Linked DNA regions of Homo sapiens: all the other regions are linked to region 3. The links come from fine-mapping of genetic effects on gene expression. A gene starts in region 3. Each other region holds a variant in brackets. All regions are shown on one strand. Distances are from middle to middle.

Evidence for each region. PIP is the estimated chance that this variant, and not a neighbour inherited with it, causes the effect. A credible set is the group of variants that fine-mapping cannot tell apart.
Region 1: its variant is the best candidate, but not a certain one, in a credible set for the expression of LRRC1 in T cells (TOPMed, PIP 0.70).
Region 2: its variant is the best candidate, but not a certain one, in a credible set for the expression of LRRC1 in subcutaneous fat (GTEx, PIP 0.57).
Region 4: its variant is the best candidate, but not a certain one, in a credible set for the expression of LRRC1 in fibroblasts (GTEx, PIP 0.82).
Region 5: its variant is the best candidate, but not a certain one, in a credible set for the expression of LRRC1 in whole blood (INTERVAL, PIP 0.83).

The regions. Positions count from the first base shown.
Region 1 is chr6:53,874,325-53,879,324 of GRCh38, forward strand. It overlaps LRRC1 (leucine rich repeat containing 1), which reads left to right. Exons shown (of 14, transcript NM_018214.5): 3 at 4,669-4,747. Among named protein-coding and RNA genes, the nearest start is that of LRRC1, 82 kb to the left of the region's middle. The variant G/A (reference allele first, on the strand shown) is at 2,763.
Region 2 is chr6:53,908,083-53,913,082 of GRCh38, forward strand. All of the region lies in intron 10 of LRRC1 (leucine rich repeat containing 1), which reads left to right. Among named protein-coding and RNA genes, the nearest start is that of MLIP-IT1, 88 kb to the right of the region's middle. The variant C/T (reference allele first, on the strand shown) is at 3,068.
Region 3 is chr6:53,792,949-53,798,092 of GRCh38, forward strand. LRRC1 (leucine rich repeat containing 1) reads left to right here and starts at 2,057. Exons shown (of 14, transcript NM_018214.5): 1 at 2,057-2,467. The coding sequence starts at 2,309. It overlaps LOC124901333 (a long non-coding RNA gene), which reads right to left and starts at 727. Exons shown (of 5, transcript XR_007059619.1): 1 at 593-727; 2 at 335-401. RefSeq lists silencers at 748-877, 1,923-2,162 and an enhancer at 2,129-2,841.
Region 4 is chr6:53,928,706-53,933,883 of GRCh38, forward strand. It overlaps LOC101927189 (a long non-coding RNA gene), which reads left to right and starts at 1,277. Exons shown (of 4, transcript NR_125842.1): 1 at 1,277-1,572. RefSeq lists a silencer at 386-680. The variant C/CCA (reference allele first, on the strand shown) is at 2,215.
Region 5 is chr6:53,770,241-53,775,418 of GRCh38, forward strand. It overlaps LOC124901334 (a long non-coding RNA gene), which reads left to right. Exons shown (of 3, transcript XR_007059620.1): 3 at 3,773-3,859. All of the region lies in intron 2 of LOC124901333 (a long non-coding RNA gene), which reads right to left. Among named protein-coding and RNA genes, the nearest start is that of LRRC1, 22 kb to the right of the region's middle. The variant G/GT (reference allele first, on the strand shown) is at 2,724.

The sequences.
Region 1 (5,000 bases), 81 kb after region 3:
GATTCAACTATAGATTTGACAGCTATATATATATGATATATATATAATATTAGTGAAAAACAAACACTATGGTCCTACTTTCACAAATAAGCTATTATATTTATGCTATTACTTTCATAAATAAGCGATTATATTTATATAAACTAGGACCATAGTGTTTGTTTTTCACTACCTCATTTGACCATGCAAGGCAGAAAATAGTGTGAGGAAAATGTTAGCATAGATCCAAATGTTTTACACTTTTAAATTTGAACTAAAATCTTTCATGTAGCATCTGATTATTGTGAGGTTGTTGGAGCAAGACATCCATTTTTTCTTTAATTCTCCCTTTTCCCTATCACCCACAATTTAGAAATATTAAGTATGTTTTGGCTCAGATTGAATGAGTCAGACTGGTGGAAGAAACAGCAAGAACCAGGAGAAATCTTTCTATTTTAGCCATTCTCAATGTTAATATGTCCAAAATAAATGAATTTTTGAAGTTAAATGCTGCAGACTAACCTTTTAAAGGCCTAAAAGCTATAATCTCAAGTTTTCTATCAAGAAAGGAATTTAAAATAGCAACTTTGGTCTTTTAAAAATCACAGTATTTAAAGGCCAGTAAATATGGGGGAAAATGTTCAGCTGCAATAGTCATAAAAAGAATACAAAATAAAATGTTGCCATACTATTTTAGCAATACAATTGGCATTTTTTAAAATGTAAAAGAAAGAAAAGAGGAGGAGAGATGTTGAATACGGCATCTTGTACAGGCTGATGAAAGTATAAGTGGGCATAAGTTGCTGCTCGCAAAAGCAATTTAACAATATTTTTCAAGCTCTGTAGAGATGTTAATGCCTTTGACACAGTAATTCTACTTCTGGGAACATAGCCTAAGGAAATAATCAGGAATGCACATACATATAACATCAGGAACTTTGAAACAACCTAAATGCCCAACAATGGAGGATTGATTAAATGAAATATGAAAATATATACAATGTGCTTTTCTGCCATTAAGAACAGCAAACTACTTGGAGAAATAATGATAAGAGAAAAAAGCTTGTAAAGTAATGTAAGGTGCAAAAAACAAATTATCATGAACTTAGTATTGTGAAATATAATCTATTTATACACATATTCTGTGTGTATATGTGTGTGCACACGTGTGTGTGTGACAAGTAAAAAAAAAAATCACAATAAAAGATTACCTCTAGGTGATGAGAGTGTTGGTGGTGTTTATTTTCTTCTTTGTATATTTTACAAATATTTATGTTTGTAATCAGGAAAAAAATCGTAATTTAAAAGTGCACTACTTTGGAATACCTGGTACTGATACCACCACATGAAAATATAAGGAAAAGAAAGTCTAAAGGTAATTACAACAGAATGCCATCAGTGCTTTTGATAGAGTGATGGGACTTGATGGTGGTAGTGGCGGTTTTTGTTATTTTATTATTTAAATGATTTGTTAAATAATTGTACATATGTATGGGTACATAGTGATGCTTTGATACATATAATGTACTGTGTAATTACAAGGTAATTAGCATACTCATCTAAAGCATTTATCATTTCTTTGTGTTAGGAACTTTCTATATCCTCCTTTCACCCATTTGAAACTATATATTATTGTTAACTGTAGTCATCTTACAGTGCTATACAACAGCAGTTCTCAACTTTTTTTGGCACCACGGACCGGTTTTGTGGAAGACAGTTGTATTAGTCCATTTTCACACTGCTGGTAAAGACATATCCGAGACTGGGCAATTTAAGACAGAAGGGGGTTTAATTTGACTCACAGTTCCATCTGACTAGGGAGGCCTCACAATCATGGTGGAAGACAAGGGGGAGCAAGTCACATCTTATGTGGATGGTGGCAGGCAAAGAGAGCTTGTGCAGGGAAACTCCCCCTTATAATAACTATCAGATCTTGTGAGACTTACTTACTGTCATGAGAACAGCTCAGAAAGACCTGCCCCCATGATTCAGTTACCTCCTACCGGGTCCCTCCCACAACACATGGGAATTCAAGATGAGATTTGGATGGGGACACAGCCAAACCATATCATTCTGCCCCTGGCCCCTCCCAAATCTCATGTCCTCACATTTCAAAACCAATCATGCCTTCCCAACAATCCCCCAAACTCTTAACTCATTTCAGCATTAACTCAAAAGTCCACAGTCCAAATCTTATCCAAGACAAGGCAAGTCCCTTCCATCTATGAGCCTGTAAAATCAAAAGCAAGTTAGTTACTTCCTAGATACAATGGCAGTGCAGGCATTGAATAAATACAGCCATTCCAAATGGGAGACATTGGCCAAAACAAAGGAGCTGCAGGCCCCATACAAGTCTGAAATCCAGCAGGGCGGTCAAATCTTAAAGCTCCAAAATGATCTCCTTTGACTCCATGTCTCACATCCAGGTCATGCTGATGTAAGAGGTATGTTCCCACGGTCTTGGACAGCTCTGCCCCTGTGACTTTGCAGGGTATAACCCCTTACCTGGCTGCTTTCACGGGCTGGCCTTGACTGTCTGGTGGCTTTTCCAGGTGCACAGTGCTATCTGTTGGTGGATCTACCATTCTGGGGTCTGGAGAATAACGGCCCTCTTCTCGCAGTTCCACTAGGCACTGCCCCAGTAGGGATTCTGTGTGGGTGCTCCAACCCCTCATTTCCTTTCTGTACTGCCCTAGCAGAGGTTTCCCACGAGGGCCTTGCCCCTGAAGCAAACTTTTGCCTGGGCATCCAGGCATTTCCATACATCTTCTGAAATCTAGCCA[G/A]AGGTTCCCAAACCTCAATTCTTGATTTCTGTGTACCCGCAAGCTCAACACTATGTGGAAGCTGCCAAGGTTTGGGGCTTCCACCCTCTGAAGCAACAGCCCAAGCTATACTTTGGCCCCTTTTAGTCAGAGCTGGAGTGGCTGGGATGCAGGGCACCAGGTCCCTAGACTGCACACAACATGGGGACCCTGGACCGGGCCCAGGAAACAATTTTCTCCTAGGCCTCTGGGCCTGTGATAGGAGGGGCTGCCATGAAGACCTTTGAACATGCCCTGGAGACATTTTTGTCATTGTCTCAGGGATTAACATTCAGCTTCTCGTTACTTATGCAAGTTTCTTCAGCCAGCTTGAATTTCTCCTCAGAAAATGTTTTTTTTTCTATCATGTTGTCAGCCTGTAAATTTCCCAAATTTTATGCTCTGCTTCCCTTATAAACTGAATGCCTTTAACAGCACCCAAGTCACCTCTTGAATGTTTTGCTGCTTAGAAATTTCTTTCACCAGATACCTATATCATCTCTCTCAAGTTCAAAGTTCCACAAATCTCTAGGGTAGGGGCAAAATGCTGCCAGTCTCTTTGCTAAAACATAACAAGTCACCTTTGCTCCAGTTCCCAACAAGTTCCTCATCTCCCACCTCAGCCTGAACTTTATTATCCATATTGCTATCAGGCTTTTGGTCAAAGCCATTCAACAAATCTCTAGGAAGTTCCAAACTTTCCCACGTTTTCCTGTCTTCTGAGCCCTCCAGACTGCTCCAGCCTCCGCCTGTGAACCGGTTCCAAAGTTGCTTCCACATTTTTGGGTATCTTTTCAGCAGCAACCCACTCTACTGGTACCAGTTTACTCTGTTAGTCTGTTTTCATGCTGCTGATAAAGACATACAAAAGAAAGAGGTTTAATGGACTTACAGTTCCACATGGCTAGGGAGGCCTCACAATCACGGTGGAAGGCAAGGAGGAGGGAGTCACATCTTATGTGGATGACGACAGGCAAAGAGAGCTTGTGCAGGAAAACTCCCCCTTATAATAACCATCAGGTCTCGTGAAACTTACTATCATGAGAACAGCACAGGAAAGACCTGCCCCCATGATTCAATTACCTCCTACTGGGTCCCTCCCACAACACATGGGAATTCAAGATGAGATTTGGGTGGGGACACAACCAAATCATATGAGCAGTTTTTCCACAGACCAGTGTTGGGAATGGTTCTGGGACAAATGAAGCTCATTACATTTACTGTGCACTTTATTTCTATTATTATTACATTGTAATATATAATGAAATAATTATACAACTCACCATAAGGTAGATTCAATGGGAGCCCTGAGCTTGTTTTCCTGCAACTGGACAGTCCCATCTGGGGGTGATGGGAAACAGATCATCAGGCATTAGATTCTCATAAGGAGCACACAACCTAGATCCCTCGCATGGGCAGTTGACAATAGGGCTCATGCTCTTATGAGAATCTAATGTGGGCGCTGATCTGACAGTAGGTGGAGCTCAGGCAGTAATGCAAGTGATGGGGAGTGGCTGTAAATATGGATGAAGCTTTGCTCACCCGCCTGCCGCTCACCTCCTGCTGTGCATCCCGGTTCCTCACAGGTACTGGTTTGTAGCTCAGGGATTGGGGACCCCTGCCATAGAACACTAGAACTTACTCCTATAGCTATAATTTTGTCAGAGATTTGATGTTTTTATTATTTTTCTTTAATGTGCTTCTGTTGAGAATATAACTTATATTAGGAAAGCAAATATAAATATATTAAAATACTTTATAAGTCTAGGTCATGTTTGAATGGAGGTAGGAATTTCCAGATATTCTCTTGTGAGTGTGATCCATCTTGAGAGTGATGAAAACTGTTAATAATGGTGGCAAATTATAGACATTTTCTCTACTCCTGCAGAGATTCCTGAAATTCCAGAAAGCATTTCATTCTGTAAAGCACTGCAGGTAGCTGACTTCAGCGGAAACCCACTGACTAGGTAAGCTTTCTGCTTACTTTTCTGTCTATACTAGTAAGAGTATCTTTTTTGAGAGCCAAGCGGAGAACACAGTCAGGTTAACCATCTTGGAGGTACCTAGATGGATCACTGTCTTTATCAAGGATGGTTGACTTTCACAGATATTTCTTTATAAATAGCCCTGTACAATGAAAGGCGTACTATTCTATTGATAGAAACCTCAAAGTATGTTGTAGGGATAAGGTGCAGCACAGTGAAGTGTACAAAACAGGAT
Region 2 (5,000 bases), 120 kb after region 3:
GAGAGGAGAGTTAAGGAACATATTGTGCAGTAGTATGATTGATTCATGGATAGATGGAGTTGGTGGTATATGTGTGAGCATGAGTATGATGAATGAGAGCCAGACCATAAAGAGTTTTTGGCTAGAAGAAATTGAGCTTATATCCAAGTTTAGGGTCCTGTTTTCTTTTTGTCTCCATTAAGTCCAAATGAAAGAGACGCCAACTAAGCCACACTTACCCAGTCAGATGAGGCAACATAGCATTTGCAGATCATTCATCAAAGCTTTTTTCAGTCAGGCAACCTGTAAATATTAATTACCCATAAATATTACTATGATACTCAGAAATGCCTGTGGTGATAGAATATTCATTTTGTGGATAGTTTTTCTGCCTTCTTATTATTGCAATTCAAAATTCTTTCAGTATAAGTTTCCGTTGTATTCTAAAATGAATTATTGATTAAAGACATGATATAGAATATAAAAATATTAGATAAAATATAGTTGACCATCAAATTTCAAGATGGAGAAGTAATTCCTAAACTTGAAATAAGTCATAAAAAATAGTTGATGGATTGTCTACAGGAAAATTCGATTTCTGATCTTCAAGAAGGTAAAAGCAGCCTTTACTTTCTTGAAAGGGGGCAGGGAGACATTTAAGGCATCTTAAATGAGAGATCTGTCTTTACTCTATTAGAAGTTCTTCTACACCAATAAGGAAAAGATGTATTTACTATAGAGAAGTAGACAAAAAGAAACTTCCACAAAAACCAGCAAGTGATTCACACAAGAACAAATAGAAATGGCAACTAATGTGAAACAATTTCAGCCTCATCAGTATTCACAAAAAAATTTAATAATGCCAAATTTTGGCAAGGGTGGAGGGAAATATATATTATCATGTAAATATAAATTATTATGACTTTCTGGAAGGGAATATGATAATAGTAAAAACTTTAGAAATGTGCGTACCCTTTGATTCTGCAATTCCACGTCTAGGAAAACATTTATGGATATACACTAAGAATGATGTACAAGAACATTTCTCACATTATACATGGGAGCAGGCACCATACCAAGTGTCCACAGAGGCAGCTAACATGTGCCAGGCATGGTGCCAAGGGCTTTTGCACTTATTCTTATCTAATTATCACAACAGTTCTATGAGGTATAGGTAAACCATTTTCAATGTCCAACAGATTGTGAAACTAAGACTGAGAGAGGTTAAGTCACTTGTCCAGAGTCACACAGCAAAGAAGTGGCAGACCTAACTAGCATTGTCTAACCTGGGCAGTTTCTTAAATAATCTGTGATACATCCATAGAAGGAAATAACTATGTGGTCCATAAAAGTCCTCTTAGAAGCATTGTTAAAGTGTGTATGTATAATCACAAATGCAAGGCAGTGGTACTGGAAGATTGTACCTCATAATGTTAATACTGATTATCCCTTTGTGGTAAGATTTGATTTTTTTTCATTGTGCTTTCCTGTGCATGTATGTTTAGTTTTTATTTTTCTAATCAATGTAAGGTACTTTTTTATAATCAGAAAAAAAAAAAAGAATTCCGTAGCTATTAGTGGATATTTTGATGTCAGTGGCCTCAGAATTCAGGGAATCCCAAAGCCACACAATTGCCAAAAATATTTATGAAGTAGGGAACATTTGAATAATATGCCATAGATGATGGGATTCTAAAATTATGCTTCATATTATTTTTGTTCAAATTGCGTTTTGGCCAGATTTTACTTATTGTACACTTTTCTTTTTTTGCCAATGGGGTGTGTGTTCAATTATGTTACAAATAATATTAAAAGGAATATACTGAAGGAAAGTGAAAGTTCCCTTATACTTAAGGCAAGCATTTAAAAAATGGAAGATAAACAGACGTGACTAACATAGGCTCCCTTTTTGAATCACTGAATCTGTCTCATGATCTCCTCCTTGGGTGAGCTAACCTGCAGGCAATTAATACCTAGTGAAAGTTGACCTGAGCAGAGGTTTGCTCAATAATCTGCAGAACCTATTTTCTTGAGATGGGTTAAATCAGTGCATAACAGCTAAGGAGAGTATCATTTTGAATTAAGAGAGACACAAAATGGCTGGACAAAGATTCTCAGCTATATTCCATAATTCTCAGAGAATCCAAGTCCAACCCCTTGTATTCTGGGAAGGTGCTATTATGTGGTTTAAGGGAAGCTTAAAAATATCAGCTTCCTACATAACTGGTAATAAGTTATTTAAACAGTGACTCTGCTTCCCAGAACTTCTAAGTGATACATTTTATCCTGATTACCACTGAGAAACCTGTAAACTCTGCCTCCTGAACCCAAAAGAGAAAGCCAAAATATATATGAATGATGTGTATAATGTCAGTCTTCATTATTATTAATACAAAATGTCACTGCGATACATCGTTAGGGAGATGGGTTTTTTAAGACATTCGGGTAAGTTCAGGAAAGAGACTGCCAGCATCAGTACAGTTCTAAGAACATAGTAGGTATTCAGGTGTTGATTGTACTCATCATTTGGATCTGAGGTTTTTATTTCCTGGAAAAAAAAATAGCTACCACATTTATTTGGCAACAGCAAAAGGCCAGTTTCTATGATAGGCGCCAAATTATATATGTGGTTTCATTTAAGTTAATCATTATTGTTACTTTTGGTTAAAGTAACATATCCAAAACCACAAAACATATGACTGAGCCTAAATTCTAGCCCAGGTCTGTATGGTCTCAAAGCATCCGCTCCCTCCATCATACCGCATCTCCCTCTGACGTCTATAATGAACTATATCTTTTCAGTTATGGGTTTGAATGCTTAATAATCTTTTCTAAAAACCAAAGGTTGTGCCATCCCTTCCTGGCTGATTTGGAAAGAGGGCTGTGTTTATGTGAATGTTCGCTGGGACAGCATGTGCCTTTGTGGGGTGATTAAGGCATCCCTAGCACACTCTGCAACAACATGTGCTCTTTGTTGGCATTGTTTTTCATAAACCATAGACAATAGAGATCAGGAGGTCACACTGCCTGCTTTGACAACCCAGAGGGCCTAAGAGGCTCTTGTACGCAATTGCTTTCCACCCCTTGA[C/T]GTCTCAAATGGGTGTGAGATTAGAGTGGGAAAGGAAAAAGAAAAATGAAACAATAACACACAGTAGACAGCTCACACACTTCATTGAAGTTTACACAATATGTTCCCAAATGATTAATGGATCTTGTCCAGAACATTTATTTAGAGCCTTCTCTGACCCACTTTAATTAATTAATTTTTTTGACTACATAATATATGCATATGATACAAATTGAAAATGTTCACATGGTATAGCAGTAGGGCCCCAAAACAGATATCTTACAGGTTGGTGTGGTGGGAGGGCAGTGGACAGCTTCAAGACAAGATGCCCAGAATTAAAATGCAGTCCCAGCTCTGTATGTCTTCCAGGAGCTGATTATCCCATCCGGACGATCATATGAATGATAATATCTGCTTTGCCCCCCTTGGGTCACACATAAATCCTGTCTCTTCAAAGCTAGATCAGGACGCTAGCGGGGGTCTTCAGCCTCAGCCAACTGCTGACTTGGAAGCTCTCCTTCAGGGCATGCAGCCGTACCTCTGAACCCCAGCCTGACACCGAAGCTCCTCCACCTGGAGCAGGGATGCGGCAAGGGTGCCCCATGGGAACCTAGTCATTCTTTCTCATGAGTAGATCTTTGTCAGGATTGTCTAAATTTATCAGAGACTCTAATAATATTGATCATCAAAAGGATCAGGGTTTTGATTGCTTTCCTTCCATGATATTTCTGGGCACCTAGGTAGAATTGTTGATTCCCTTCCTCAAGGGAGGGAGAATATGCTCAGCCATATGGGAAATCCACACTATATTGGGGCTTGATGTTTCTAAAACCTAAGAAAGGCTACTCTGGTGATTCTTACTGGAACAAAAAAGAGTTTTGTTGTCTCCACTGCTACACATAGAGGCAGATAACTTTTAAGTAGAGGTCTTTCACAAGTAAGTAAATAAAGTGTATAAACATATGTAAATGAGAAATTTAGTGGGCAGAGAGGCTATGCATGGTGGGTAGATAGCGTGAATACTATACTTGCCAAGTACCTTGAGTGTACATAAACATGTGCAAATAAGCTGTAACTCAGGTAAATGATCTTAGGGTTCTTCATGTGGTATTTTGTGCTGTCAGAGGGTTAGACCGTAATTATGAAATGCGTGTTATTATATGGACCAAAGCGTTCTGTGAAGACTCAATGGAGGAATAGACGATGTTTAGCTAATTTTGGATCATTGGTAAGATTTAAAAAGGCATTTCTATAAAAAACAATGGGATCAAAAATATAAAAATGTATTTAGGGTATAATGACTAGACCATTTTTGCTGGGATGAGAAATATGTGAATGCGGAGACTAAAGGGAGTAATCTAAAAGCCTTTCTACATATCTGGGTGCTTTCCACATGACCAGAGACAAATGTTAGTCTACATTTACTTATATATTTATTTTTCTTTTATATACATTATGGTTAAATATTGTGGTTCAATACATTATTTTGAAATCTTTATATTTTTAAGGGAGGAAATAAAAAGATTATGTATGAAAGTAATTATGTAGCCATTCACAAAAATATGCATTCTGCTTTTGAAGATATTTTATACATATATTAAACACATGTATAAATAGAAAAGGGCAGAAGATATATTCAGATATCATTGACCATTCAAGTCTTGTGCTCTTTCACAAGTGGGAGGCTCTGGAGTAGTATTTTTCCATGTGTTGGAGAGACATCAATAGGTTCCTTCATGAGCCTTTTCTAGCAATTGCCCTTAGTCAGGAGAGTGAGTACAAGAAGAATGTAGTACTTTATGGAGTCCTGCAGAATGTTGTGTCTGGGATCAAGCTATTTTTCTGCCCTCTTGATTCAGTTTTCCTGACTGTAAAAACCACCGCCAATTTGTTCAAGAGAATCATTGGATTTTTTTGTGTGTTTATGTTCCTTTTTGAAGACCAGACTCATACA
Region 3 (5,144 bases):
ACTGTGCATATGGCACTGTGGCAGCTTCCCAGATCTACAAAGCAAGTGAGACAGTATCTGTTGTTTAAGAGGTCATAATCTCTTTCGGATTAAGGTGATACAAAAATAATAACACAGAGAAGCTGAAGCATCATGGAGAGGCACACAAGGAATGCTTATTGAGGTCTGAATTTTTAAAAGACTGGACACGTCTTTAAAATACATTTGGTGTTCGTTAAAATAATCTAGTGTGATAACCTCTGGAAATCACATTATTTTAAATGGAGGGAACTAGCCTTCTTTAATTTTTTTTTTAAAAAGCAGTTGGAAAACTTGAAGACAGGGACTTACTTACCTTTCCACATGTCTCTGTCAGGAACCAGTTTTCTAGGAAGGGTGGCAGAAATGAGCTTCATATGTTTCTGGAATGCAAGAATGTAGAAAGGGGGGTGGAGGTTCAAAGTCCAGGTAGCCCTCTGTGAGAACGCAGGAATCAAATCAGGACAAACAAAAGAAGGGTGAAGTGGGTAGGGCAACGGAGTTTCGGGATTGACTGGAATGAGAGTTAAGGTGATAATGCTGGGGTGGAAATGAAAGTCAGACCCCTCCTTACGGACTGGGAAGAAAGGAGCCCTCCTAGTAAAGTTGAAAAGACCAAGTGTCCTCTTCTCCATTTCACCGGGGAAACGCTCCTGTGCCTAGTCGTAAGGTACAGGAGAGTCTATGGAGCCCATGGAGAGTCTAATGCAAAAACTAGTTTCCGACCAAACTTTGCCTTGGCCACTGAGCATGCTCAGCTTTGTCTTCTATAGAAAAGTGAACTCCGTGGCTCCAGATTTTAGCTATAGCAGCTGGAGGGCGGGAGTGAGTGTGGGAGAGCCAGCGTGGCAGCGGCCGCAGGTGGAAACCTGGAGTTTGAGTATGCTTGAAAGGGAAAGTGTGGAACGAAGGGGCGGCCGGGTGGGGAATCAGAGAAGCCCCCAAGGAAATGATTCATCATTGTGATTGACCTTGACTTTAGCAACCCTTCATTAAAGGAGAAAATTTGGTTATTCGGAGATGGGGACTGTGTTGCAAACAGTTACAGGCAAAGAGGGGCAGTTCAGGATTCCGGCCGTGGTCCGCAGGAATGAGTCGGGGCGAGGGAATGGTTGTTATAACCCAATAGTGAGCCTCCCCGGTCATCCGGGCTGGACGGGACTGGGGTTGTAGCAGAAAAGCAGGAGCTGTATGGAGGATGCTCACCTGGCAGCCTCGATCTGCCCCTCTTCCCTCGCTCCTCCCTCCGCACCAGCCACAGCTAGTTGTCAGGGGCCAACATCTGGGCCGGGCTGGAACTGGCTCAGAAACTCGCGTTTGCCTGCTTATTTCTGCAGCTGGGCTCCTTGCCAGGTGCAACCACATCTATGAGAATCTCGCAGACTCTCAGACTCCTATGCCTTTGCTGGTACAGGGAGGAGGATTTACTATCACTCACTGCATAAACCATGATCACCAGAGATGTGCTCCCAAGTTACAAAGCCTGCAGGCGGTGCCCGAGGACCAGAGGGCCGGGCGCGGCCAGCTCACACTTCTGGGGCAGCCGTGAGCAGCGGGCACACGGGCAGCCACGAAAGCAGCAGCGAGGGTGGTGCAAACACCTCAAAACTACACCGAATCCAGTAGCGCCTGGCGCCCCCGGCGCGCAAGGTACGCTTTGGGGCGGTCCTGTGTGACCCCGGAAGAGAAAGTTGTTTTGGGGAAGGGGAGCAAGGAGAGGAGTGCGAGTTAAATAAAACTAAATATCAAAGTTGTTCTGCTCTGCTCAGGCCGCCTCTACTCCGCCTCATCTTTGTCCCAAGTCCTTTCACAGTCTGCCTTCCTCAAACGGCCCGATGCGCCCCCGTCTTTGCCGGAGTAAGCAGACCGCCAGCAGCCGGCCCGCAGGTCAGTCGACCCTCTCTGGATGCAGGTCGCCGGGAAAACCCGGAGCGGAGCATCCCTCGGGCCGGGAAACGCCCTCGGCGCGCACCCACTGGCGCGCATGCTCAGTCCGCGCGGCGGCTGCGAGTAGGAAGCTCCGCGCGGCGGCGGGGGCGGCGACGGCGACTGGCGGGTGGGAGTGGAGGCACCGGCTGGCGGGCGGGGGTACAGGGACGGGGCAGGGGCTCCCGCTCCAGGTTCCTTGAAGCACTTCCGACCGCGAAGCCCGGCGCGAGAAGCGAGCTAACCCAAGAGCCAACAACGAGCGCGGAGAGGGCAGCGGACTGAGCGGAGCCGCCGGCCAGAGCGGGCTCGGAGCCCGGGTCTCCGCCGCTCGGGACCCGGCTAGGCGGCGGCGGGGGCGGCGATGTTCCACTGCATCCCCCTGTGGCGGTGCAACCGTCATGTGGAGAGCATCGACAAGCGCCACTGCTCGCTGGTCTACGTCCCCGAGGAGATCTACCGCTATGCCCGGAGCCTGGAGGAGCTGCTGCTGGACGCCAACCAGCTCCGCGAGCTGCCCGAGGTAAGGGTCCGGCCTCACCTGAGCGCTCTGCCCGCTCGTCTGCTGTCCCTTCCGCTCCCATCCTCTCTCGTCCCCTCTTCCATCTCCGGGTCCGGCGTGAAGGAACCTTCCCTCTTTTATGCATTCACCTGCTTCTTTCTCCCCCTGTCTCTTTACTTCCATCCTTTCCCAGTAAAAGTTCCTTTTCATTTTATTCAAAGTGACCGGATATTTTGCGCGTAGTCACTGGGGCTCGTGCTATTGGAGAAGCGTTCTGGACTGTTAAGTAACTTAGATCCATGCTAGGTACTGACACCTGGCACTTGTGCCCGGTCAGGTGAGAAGCCGGGTGATTCGGGCTGTTTCCATCTGGAAGCTACAGAGCACTGCATCCTCCCCCCCTCCACTCCCCGGGGTCGTTCCCCCACCAAGGGCCGGGCGCGCCTCTCCTTTAGTCAAGGCATGTCCCGGAGGACCTTGTGACCTGGGCAGCGCTCAAGCGGGCCGCACTATCTCGGCATCTTGGGAGGAATGAGGAATGTGCTCCGTGCTTTATCGCGGGTGGGCTTGGCCGGCTGGCCTGCGGTGGCTGCGGGGGTGGACGCGAGATGGGCGCAGGGGAGAGCTGGGCCTGGAGCGCTAGGGGCAGGTGCCCAGATGCCGGCCGCCCGGGCCTTGCCTACGTGGACCTGTTGCGTGGTGGGAGCTGCGGTGAACGTCAGCGGAGGCTCTGCCCGCGGGCCAGCCTTGCAGCCGCCTTTCCCGGAGCGGGCACAGTCGTCCTGCTGACTTTCTCTCCTTGCAGTGATGCGTTATCTCTTCAGAGTTGTTTATGTAAATTGATCACTCCATTGCCGCCGAACTTGTCAAGCGACATGTGCTGATGGTGCTTTGACCGAGAGTAGGGGTACAGCGAACTTCTTTCAAGCTTGCCTCGGGAACTTAGCTAGAGTAACCCCTCGGGGAAGGTGTCTCAAACCCAGGTGTGTGCAGGAAGTCGGTGTGCAATAATCCAAAGGTGTGCAGGAAGTAGGGAGACTGCTGGCAGTCGGGGATTGGACCTGTTTTAGGCCTGAGCTTTGGAACGCAAACTTCTTGTTGCCCTTTAGTTAACACAAGCCAAATCATTGTCACAGAAACACTAGTCAAGTGTTCTGACTTGTTAGAATGACCTGATACGTTCTCCAGCGCTGATGGAGCATTTAAACAATAAGAACTGTGTGTTTTTCTCAATATTTTAAGTGGTGGTGTTCTTCTTGGATTAACTTTCCTGGGTTCATGTGGAATTGATTGGATGTTTGCTCTGTGTAATCATGGAGATTATCCTCACTAGGACCTTTGCAAAGCCCCCCAGGCTTTATTTAGCTTAGAAGCAGCAAAGCCATCAAGTTCCCTCAGGCGTTTATTATTTCGCAGGCATTTTCAAACACATGATTTTTTTCTGGCCTTTTACGTCCTTGAAGATTTCTTACCAGTCGTCAGCTCCCTCACTGCTTTAAGTTGTGTAATTTTAGGCAGTGATATCACCAGGAATATAGAATATGTAATTTAATAGTTTTCAGGGGCTTCAGGATGACATTATTGAAGATGGAGTGAAAAGTTATTCACTAGAAATGATTCATTGCTCTTTGTGGTATTTGTTTTTTTGTTTTCTTTTGTAGAACTGGAAGATTTCCTTTGACTGGATTGGCTTTTCACTCCCTTCTGCAGGGTTTGTGGGTTTTCCTGTAATGTTGGGGAATTCAGCTTGGCATGGGAAATTACATAATTTCCCATGCCAAGCCGAAATGTCAGGTCTTTCTGTGATCCTAAATGGAAACTTGTCAGAATCTCAAAATATAGTCTGATGGCACTCTGTAAATATGGTAAATAAACAAGCTTTTCAAAGGTTACAGGTGATCTTGCTAATGGATTATTATTGCTCTAACAGCTGTTAAATTAGTATTAAAGTTTTTAGGTTGTGTAAAATCTACTTCTCCCTGACTTATTGTGTGTCTTGGTGCCTGGGTGTGTACATGCCAGACATGAGAACCACCTTGCAAACATAGATATCTGTTCCATCCCTTCCATTCTTTCCTTGGGCTATCTGTTGTCTCACCTCTGAGATCTGTATAACTTATTACCACTGGTCTCTGCTGCTCCTGCTCCAAACCCCTGTCTCCTTACCTGCCACACACAAGCGCATCTGTTTTGTTCACAAGCCTCAAAGGTCCTTATTTTGGTGGCCATACCAGCTGTATGTTCTCCTCTCTATAATTTGTTTGGAAGCACAGCTTAAGGGGAAGCCGGTACCCCTTACCAGGGCAGCAAAGATGCACTCTCCAGGTTTCAGTGTAATAACAGCCACCTTCTTTCCACTGAAAGGCCTGCAACTTCTGGTTTGCGCCAATATCTTCCTTTTACAAATTCAGATTCAGAATTGAGGTGACTTTCTCAGGGCTGTCCAGTGAGTTAGATGCAGTTGCTGGTGGGTCTTGTTCATTCAGATGTCAGCCAAATACAATTGCTTTGGACACCTAGCAGGAATCTTCTATCCTGCTTCTCACACCCATCAAATCTTTATTTAGTCTCTCCTGTTTTACTCATGTCATTATAACTTAGCCTTAGCCAAGCATTTATTGAGACTCCATTATTTACAAGTTATTGGGAATATAGAGATTAAAGGAGGCATGATTCACATCTTTGGGAGGAAGCAGAT
Region 4 (5,178 bases), 140 kb after region 3:
AATTGTTTTATTACATATTATAATGTAATAACAATAGAAATAAAGTGCATGATAAGTGTAATGCACTTAAATCATCCTGAAGCCACCCTCCCTCACTGGTCCATGGAAAAATCATTTTCCATGAAACTGGTCCCTGGTGCCAAAAAGATTTGGAACAGCTGCTCTAACCCTCCCACCACCTTCACTCACTTCTTGTATGTTGTCCTGGGCTAAGGGCTGTGGAAATGTTCATGGGGTCTTTGTTCTACCATCTCAAACTATGTGCAAATCCTAAGAAACTTGTGAGATAAAGTATTTGGCTAGTGGGAAAAAAAAAATTGATAACGTTTTTAACATTAACTGGAGTGACAGTTTGGTAATTGGCTCTCTGAGAAAGCTTCAGCATATTCTGAAAATTGGCAGGTAGCTCCAGAGTGAGCTAATTAGTTAGGAATGACTTTTAATACTCACTACCTTTAATAGCCTACCCTTGGAGAAAAGACAGATAATGAACACTGGGAAATCTATGGTGCTGCAACTTGACCTTTGTGCCATTTGGGGGAAATGAGGAAGATGAGTCATAATTTATTATTTAAAGTCCTCCTTTTATAATGTGTTGTTGTGAAAGATTTGACAAATAATGATTGCTCCTTTAGGGACTAATTTAATCAAAGAAGCAGAAAACAGGAAGAATAGAAAACTTGTGTGACTAAGCAATGTTTAATTTTATTTGAAACTGGCTCCACCACCCTGGTGATAGGAACAGAAGGTCCTATGGAGTCTTCCCATAGCAAGAAACCAGGCTTGTAACAGGGTGTAATAGAGTGACACCCCACACCTGATGCCCTGTAAATGCAGAGTCTGCAAATGCCTCTCTTTTGATGCTTTCTCAAGGTAAGTCATAAATGAAGTCTTACTGCTTTAAAAAAGTAGCTTGCCAACAGTTGCCCAGGCTCCCCATGGGACTGCGCTTCACTGAGCACCTGAAGAAAGTATTCACTGGAAATGGGCTCTCCTGGGAGACTGTCTGGATCCCGAGTGTCTGGCGTTCATGTTCCCACACCTGGCTGCTGCTTCTTGCCCTTCCTTGGCTGCAGGTGTGAGTGCTTGTTTGTTTAAACCTCGCTCAGCACTGCTTGGAAAAACAAAACAACATGGTTACTTGTCTGGGCATTGAATGTTCTTCCTGAATTTTGGTCCTGCCCATTGGCCCAGAGGCGGAATGGGTGGGGCAAGTTTCGGTGTGAGTTTGGGAAGTTTCGAGAAGACGCTATGGGCTGGGTCTGTTAGGTTGGGGTTGCTCTTGGTTTTAATCCTTTTGGAATGTCTTGAGGGTCAGGAGCGTTGCCATTGATGGCTATGGGAGTTGTCAGGCTGTGGCTCTCTTTCTCACAGAGAATGCCAGAGGCACTCGGGAAGGCATTTGCCAGGGCTCTGACAGATGTAAAGTAAGCCTTATCCATGTTGTGTTCTCACCTGGACACCTGGAAGGTGCTCAGTATAGAAAAGTCACGAGCTAGATGAGATACCAGCTTGATGTCGACTCCCTCCCCAACAATGGCTGCCTGTCTTCGTCTTGATGCCTGCCAGCAGGTAAAGGGGGTGTGCCCCTGGGACCTGGGTAGCAGCAGTCCTTGGGAAACCCAGGGTTTGTCACCTGTGGTCACTTGACCCTTGGTAAATTACCTAACCTTTTCATTCCACATCTCAAGGACAGCAAATCCATGTAGCAGTTAGGTTGTTAGAAGAAATGATGTTGACAACCAAATGTGAAGCTCTGATATGGTTCTTTTCCGGTATCATAGCTACTTGCTCTTTAAAGAACTGGTACAATGTTGGGGGCAGAAAAACCACATCATGCAGTGATGTTGCTCAGTCAGGCATACAGGTAGAGAAGAGCTGTCTCTATCCTTAGCTCCTTAGGTTTGTCCAGGGCTGCTCAGTGTGGCTGACCCTGTCTTGCTCACTGTCATGTAACCTGGAACCTACAACATCACTGCATGATGTGTAGACCTGGAACCTACTGTAGTATCTTTTTCTTGAAGGCTGTATTGTGCAGTAGTTTCCAAACTTGAGCATGCATCAGAACCCCCTGGTGGCAGTGTTAAAGCAGATTGCTGGACCCCACTCTCAGAGTCTGATTCCATAGGTCTGGGGTGGGGCCTAAGAATTTGCACCTCTAACATGTTCTGAGGTGCTGCTGCTGCTACTGGTTCAGGGAACATACTTAGAGAA[C/CCA]CACTGCTCTAGTGTGCTGGAAGGAGCAGGAGCTTTGGAGTTAAGCAGATTTAAATCCAGCTATGGCACTTACTTAATGTTGTGACCTTGAGAGGTTTTTCTTAATTTCCCCAAGTCTTAGTGAACTCGTCTGTAAAATGGGAATAATACTTACTTCAAGACTTTCTAGAGAATTAGATGACAGAGCACATAGAAGGTTTTCAGCAATTACCACTCTTTTTGCTATCCTGAAACGCATCATATTTGCTCCATATGGGGAGGCATAAGAGCATCTGGTCTTAGCCATGTGTTGACCTTTAGGCTCTTCTTGCCAATCTATACAAGCTAATAGGAGTAGAGGAAGTGCTAACGGAAGTAGAAAGCATGTTTGCCTCTGGGTGAGTGCCTAAGGGGAAGACTGAAAATGTGGATGGCCAGATGTGGCTAGAATATATTAACACTTCCTGACTTGCCTGGTGGCGTATCAGCCCACACACCATGGACTCTCAGTGAGCAGGAACCAGATCTGTGCCTGACATTCAGGTCACAAATCTTCCAACCCACAATCTGTCCTTATACCTGGGCTTTTGGAAGAAATCTTCCAATCTTGGTATTTCAGATTGGGAAACACCGAAGCTCAGGATCTCCAACCTCATCTGTATTCTTCATGTAGCATCACAATCATTTTAGTGTCCTTAGGAAACAAGTTGCCTTATTCAACTGTTCCAAGGTTTAATGACTCTCTCCAAATGCATTATCCCGTTGTCATACTAAGGATGATCCTGAAAATAGGTAACTGGTATGGAAATATATGGTAATATGTAGACCAATACACACATTTTAGAAACTGTCCCTTTTTTGTCATATAAAGCAATATTATGTGTATCATAAAACTACTTCTCTAGAGATCTGAGTAGTAGTTCTAATCATTTATCATATTGCATAATTATGCATATCATATATGCAAAATTTTTGCATCTTTAGGGCTTATTTAATGTAGGTGGCTGCTATCTAAATGATGCCCTTCCCTGGGCCACCATTTGCTTTGGGAACATCAGACTTTTTTGATAGCATTCCTATTAAAATACTCAAGTCCAGGGGCTCTTAAACTATAACCCATTGCCTGTTTTTATAAATAAAGTTTTCTTGGAACATGACTATGTCCCTTTTTAAATGTGCAGAGACCAAATGGCACTCAAAGCCAAAAATATTGATTATTTGACCCTTTATAGACAGTTTGCAGGGGTTTCTGCCTCTAGTCAATAGGTGCAACCTGCTATCTTTTGCCACCAGACGGCGTTGGATGTGTCGCCTGGTTATCACAGCCAGACACCAGTCTGGACACCCTGGCTTTCCAAATGGGCAGAACTCAGAGAGCCTGTTCCTTGTTCCCTACCAACAGCATGACCTGCCCTGCCACTTGCTCTGCCAACTCTGGGATGCTTTGCAACAAATGCCTGGGGTCACCCCCTTCTCAGGCTGCTCAGGAGCTATAGCACACCCTCAACACTCTCTTGAGTCCCAATGCTATTATGTTTGGGGACCCTACTGTTATCTTACATTTCTATTCAATTTTCTTGAAGGATGGGCTGTATGCCTGGCTAAGCAACATCACTGCATGATGTGTAGACTCCATGACTGAAACCAGCATCCTATAGGAAGAGATGCAATATTTTAAAAATGGCCAAGGCAGCACATTTAGATACTGAATGTCAGCCTTATTTTATGGAGGAAATAAAGGCTTTCAGGAGCGAATTGCCAGTTTTTATTCCCTGCTACCCTCACCCACAGAATGCCTTTGCTGGACTCTGTCCTCTCCCAGACCTCACTTCCTCATCACAGCTAGCTCTTCCAGCCACTCTCCGATCCTTTTTCTCTTAGAGTTTGCTCCATTGATGATCCATTTTATCCCATATCTCAGCAGCTTCTATAAACATGTTTAGATACCACTCTAAATGAGCAAAAAACCTTGATCACCTAGGTCAAAAACCTAGAGCCACTGCACCCAGCCCTGATAGGCATTGTTTCTAAATCCTTGTGGCTACTTTTACTCAACTTTAATTGTCTCAAGTGTTTTCATTACAATTTTTGAATTAGGAATAGAAAATTGAATTGGCAAATAGGAAAATTGTTTTTTGATTACTACGTGAAGACTTACTCTAAAGACCAATTTACTTTTTGCTTTACTTTTAACTTTTGAGTCCCTGAGAAATAGACTCTTAAGTCCCCTCCATCATAGTCTTCCTTACTCTTCTCTGCCAAGGTTCTTAAAACAGGTCTATTCTTGTTCTCCCTGCTTCTAAGTTTCCATGCACTACCGTGAGAAGTCTGGCTCCCATACACAGCATGGTGGAACTGCTCTAGCCAGGTCAGCAGACCTCTGTGGGGCCACATCTGATGGACACTGATTCACCTCTTACCTTTCTAGACCTGTCTGCTGCATTTGACTCTGTGGAATGCTCCCTCTTTCTAGAAATTTCTACCTCAGTGCTTTTCTAACTTTTCTGACTGCAACTCAACTTTCTTGAAGGAACCTGTCACGTAGTAACCCAGTAAACACATACATGTACATAGCTGAAACTAAAGTTTCCCAACATAGTGCTTTTTCCTTAACTGTATATAAGGAACTCTGATATTTCCAATTTCATTATTTTTAGTGCTAATCAAAACCAAATAAATTAATTTCACAACTCATTAACAGGTCATGTCTTGCAGCTTGAACCCTTATGCTTTTGACACACCTTCCTCTGTAATGAGTAAGGAAGTTTCTAGGAAGTTTCTTACCAGTTGATTAGCATCAAATTTATAGTTTAACCTGTAAGAAGCTGTGTTGGAGGAAACCCATTAGCTTGGATGAGAGTGGGAGGAAGGTAAAGAAAAATTAGATGTAATAGGTGTTTGTGGTTGTTGATGGGGTGAAAAAGGGCAATGACAAGAGGAAGACTGGGTTTGTAAATAGGACATGTAGGGAGGTAAAGAGGATGA
Region 5 (5,178 bases), 23 kb before region 3:
TATCGTGTTTGATTGCTTGTCTTGCCTTGTTAGAACATAAGCTCTGCAATGCTACCCTCATGGAAGCATGATAGCACATAGTGGATTTTAGTTAATATTTGCTGAATGGAAGAATGAATGAGTTCATTGGATTTTCAATGAATGATTGTGAATCTGATACTGTTCTTGGCAACCTGAATATGAATAAAATATACAGTCTTTGCTCTCTACAGAAAGTCCACATGCTAGACTCTTTCCCTGCCTCCGCTCCCAGGCCTGTTCATTTGCCTCAGACAATCTTATCTAACAAACACTGAACTTTTGTTTTTACCCCTTTTTCCTTTTCTTATATTCTCTGTCTCCTTTTTTTTTCCCTCAACTTTTGCCTAATTATAATAGGGGAATATTTGTTCCTCCCCTAAAAAATATCACTGAGTGATGAACATTAAAAAATAGTGTTAGTAATTACACATTTATCAAGAGAATCAATTTTGGAGAGAAAACAGTAACAATAGTATTATTGACTGTGAATGTCTATTAAGTGCTCGCTATATACCTGACTCCGCCAAGCAATTATGTGCATTGCCTAACATAATCAGTACAGATAAGAAAAGGATGGTGCAAGAAGTAACTTGCCCAGGCCACAGAGCTGGTAACTGGTCTGAACTCATGTCAATCTGATTCCAGATCTTGACTTCTCCCAGGGGTAACAGGGAAGCTGAATTGCTAATTTCCAGTATAATTCTCTCTGTGGGGTTTCTCCTCCATCCCCTCACACATTACGAGCAGAATGAGATGTTGCTTTCTTCACACTCCTATAGCACTCTGCTCATACACTACTTCAGCTCTTATCACATAAAATGTTTGGTATGCATCTGAAAAGTTCAGCTGGGTACATTTTCACTCATTACCAGTGTTATAAACTATTTGATTCCCTTTTCATTGCAATCAGGGTTGTAATAGAAGTAGGAGCTTCAGGTTTAGACAGACCAGAGTTCAAAAGCTGGCATCTGCTACTTACTAGCTGTGTCATGATGGGGAAATTATTTAACCCTTCTGAATCTTAGCATACTCATGTGTAGCATGAAGATAATGATACTCGTGTAGTGGTGTAATAGGAATAAGCTAAGATATGTCTGTAAAGGGCCTGGCATAGTGTCTCAGACAACATAGGTGCTCAGTGAGTACTTTTCATCTCTCTCCTGCCCACCTTGACTCTGATTCTCCCACTACATCTTACACAGCATTTCAGCTATATTACATGTTACCTACTATGGTTTGCATTAGTTTTCTATTACTGCTCAACAAATTACCCAAACTTAGCAGCTTAAAACACAAACACTTATTATCTCAAATTTTCTCTGGGCCAGAGATCTGGGACCATCTTAGCTGGGTAGTTTTAGGTTGATCTCTTATGAGGTTACAGTCAAAATGTCAGCCGGAGCTACAGTCATCTCAAGGCTCAACTGGGGGGAAAATTTGCTTCCAAGTTCACTGACATTGCTGCTGAGATGCTTTAGGAGATCTGTGTCTTAGTCCATTTTTGCTATAAAGGAATAACTGAAGCTGGGTAATTTATAAATAAAAGTTTTTTGTTTGTTTGTTTGTTTTTGGCTCATGGCTCTGCATCTGTTGAGGGCCTCAAGCTGCTTTCACTCATGGAGGAAGGGGAAGAGGAGCCAATGTGTGCAAATCACACGGGGAGACAGAAAGTGAGACAGAGGAGGTGCCAGGCTCTTTTCAACAATCAGTTCTGTGGGAACTAACAGTGAGAATTCTCTCACTCCTGTGAGAATGGCACAAAGCCATTCATAAGGGATTTGCTCCTACAATCCAAACACCTTCTGCCAAGCCCCATCTCCTAAGGGATTTGCTCCTACAATCCAAACACCTTCTGCCAAGCCCCATCTCCAACACTGGGGATCAAATTTCAACATGAGACTTGGTGGGGACAAGCAAACCATACCCAGATTATAACAATCTGCTCTAAGCTTACTCCTGTGGGCTTCTCTATAGGGCTATCTCAGGACATGGCAGCTGGCTTTCCCCAGAGCAAGCAACCCAAGAGAGAGTGAGAGACAGCACCCAAGATGGAAACCATAGCCTTTTTATAATTTGATCTTGAGAGTGACAGCCCATGACTCTTACTGTATTTTATTCATTAGAAGTGAGTCAATAAGTCTGGCCAACACTCAAGGGGAGGGAATACTACAAGAGCACAAATACCAAGAGGTGGAGATCACTGGGACCATTTTAGAGTCTGCCTATACCACATGGTTTAAATAGTCTTACAGAGCTAACCTGAGGATTATGAGCCAGCCAACCTCATTTTATAACCTCTTTTTTTTTTGAGACAGAGTCTCACTCTGTTGCCCAGCCTGGAGTGCAGTGGCATGATCTCGGCTCACTGCAGCCTCCGCCTCCTGGGTTTAAGCGATTCTTGTGCCTGAGCCTCCCCAGTAGTTAGGATTACAGGCACATGCCACCATATCCAGCTAATTTTTGTACTTTTAGTAGAGACGGGTTTTCACCATGTTGGCCAGGCTGCTCTTGAACTCCTGACCTCAGGTGATCCACCCCGGCCTTCCAAAGAGCCGGGGTTACAGGCGTGAGCCACCATGCCTGGCCATCATCTCATTACCTTTTATAGAAAACTTAGTCTTGCCTTTATAAAAGGGACTGACTTACTCACCTTGAGACCATAAATATTACTAAACTGGGTAACATGCTATACCAGTAATAGA[G/GT]TTCAACACAATCTAAAAAATAATGATAATGGTGATAATGATTTCTTTTGCATAGACTTAGAAGTTATCATACTATCTTTCCATTCCTATTCTATGTAAAACTACATTTTTTCTTTGATTCATTTTTTTAAAAACTATTTCTTCTAAGGCTGTCCCCTTGGTACATTTTACACTTTCTTTTCTTTGGTCTGTAGACACACACACACCCAGCTTCCTTCCTCAGGGAGCACCAAAGGTCAGGTAGAAAGTCATGGAGAAATAAAAATACCACTTTCAGCCCTTACTGAAAGGGCAACTTGTTTGTTATTCCCAACTAAGCCACAGTGTGCTCCAATTATCTCCCCAGAGCAAAATGTCCTGCCTATGACTTATCTTCTCTCTTTTTTCCCCTTTCTCTTGCTGGCTGCCTTTAGTTATGGCACTGCCTGGTTGCATTAGCTTCTAGTTGCAACTAGATGCCTAGCTGCATCCCCTAAAGGGGATGAAATTGATCAAGTTTGATATTTATATCCATTCAGGTTGATAATAAAGATTATATAACTACTAAAGTATGTAAGATATAAGTAGCAAAACATATTTAAATATACATTAAATTTTTATTTTACAATTATTTTTTAATTTTTTAAATTAAATTAAATTTTTATTTTACAATTATTTTTTAGTTTTTTAAATTAAATTAAATTGTAAAAATAATTTAATATTTTACAATTATTAAATATACTGTGTATATATATATATCTCCAAGCAGGTTATATACATATATATATATATATATTAGATCCAACAATAGAGGTATGATAGTTCATGTTCTTCTATTTCTATGAATTACTGAGAATCCATTTTATTAGAGAAATAGAGTATCTATAACTTTCCATCCTCAACAAATTCTGCTTTTGCATCATTCTTTCTCAGTAGAAAGAAATAAGGAGCCAGATGAATATACATAAAAAGGAAGATAAGGGACTATGGACAGATGAATATATATTCTGAGGTAAATGAATTTGACTTTGTACTTTTAATGTAATTTTCCCCCAATTCTTGTGATACAGCATGTCTCAGAAAGATTAAAACTGGTATCAGATGGCCGAATAGGAACAGCTCCAGTCTACAGCTCCCAGCGTGAGCGACGCAGAAGACGGGTGATTTCTGCATTTCCAACTGAGGTACCAGGTTCATCTCAATGGGGAGTGTTGGAAAGTGGGTGCAGGACAGTGGGTGCAGTGCACCAAACGTGAGCCGAAGCAGGGCGAGGCATTGCCTCACCCGGGTAGCGCAAGGGGTCAGGGAATTCCCTTTCCTAGTCAAAGAAAGTGGTGACTGATGGCACCTGGTAAATTGGGTCACTCCCACCTTAATACTGCACTTTTCCAACAGTCTTAGCAAACTGCACACCAGGAGATTATATCCCGCACATGGCTCGGAGGGTCCTACACCCAAGGAGCCTCGCTCATTGCTAGCACAGCAGTCTGAGATCAAACTGCAAGGCGGCAGCACAGCTTGGGGAGGGGCGCCTGCCATTGCCAAGGCTTGAGTAGGTAAACGAAGCAGCCGGGAAGCTCGAACTGGGTGGAGCCCACCACAGCTCAAGGAGGCCTGCCTGCCTCTGCAGACTCCACCTCTGGGGGCAGGGCATAGCCAAACAAAAGGCAGCAGAATCCTCTGCAGACTTAAATGTCCCTGTCTGACAGCTTTGAAGAGAGTAGTGGTTCTCCCAGCACGCAGCTGGAGATCTGAGAACGGACAGACTGCCTCCTCAAGTGGGTACCTGACCCCCGAGTAGCCTAACTGGGAGGCACTCCCCAGTGGGGGCAGACTGACACCTCACATGGCCAGGTACTCCTCTGAGACAAAACTTCCACAGGAACGATCAGGCAGCAACATTTGCTGTTCACCAATATCTGCTGTTCTGCAGCCTCCACTGCTGATACCCAGGCAAACAGGGTCTGGAGTAGACTTCCAGCAAACTCCAACAGACCTGCAGCTGAGGGTCCTGACTGTTAGAAGGAAAACTCACAAACAGAAAGGACATCCACACCAAAACCTCATCTGCACGTCACCATCATCAAAGACCAAAGGTAGATAAAACCACAAAGATGGGGAAAAAACAGAGCAGAAAAACTGGAAACTCTAAAAATCAGAGTGCCTCTCCTCCTCCAAAGGAATGCAGCTCCTCACCAGCAATGGAACAAAACTGGACGGAGAATGACTTTGACTAGTTGAGAGAAGAAGGCTTCAGATGATCAAACTACTCCAAGCTAAAGGAGGAAGTTCAAACCCATGGCAAAGAAGTTAAAAACCTTGAAAAAAAATTAGACAAATGGCTAATGAGAATAACCAATGCAGAGAAGTCCTTAAAGGACCTGATGGAGCTGAAAACCAAGGCACGAGAACTACGTGACAAGTGCACAAGGCTCAGTAGCTGATTCGATCAACTGGAAGAAAGGGTATCAGTGAT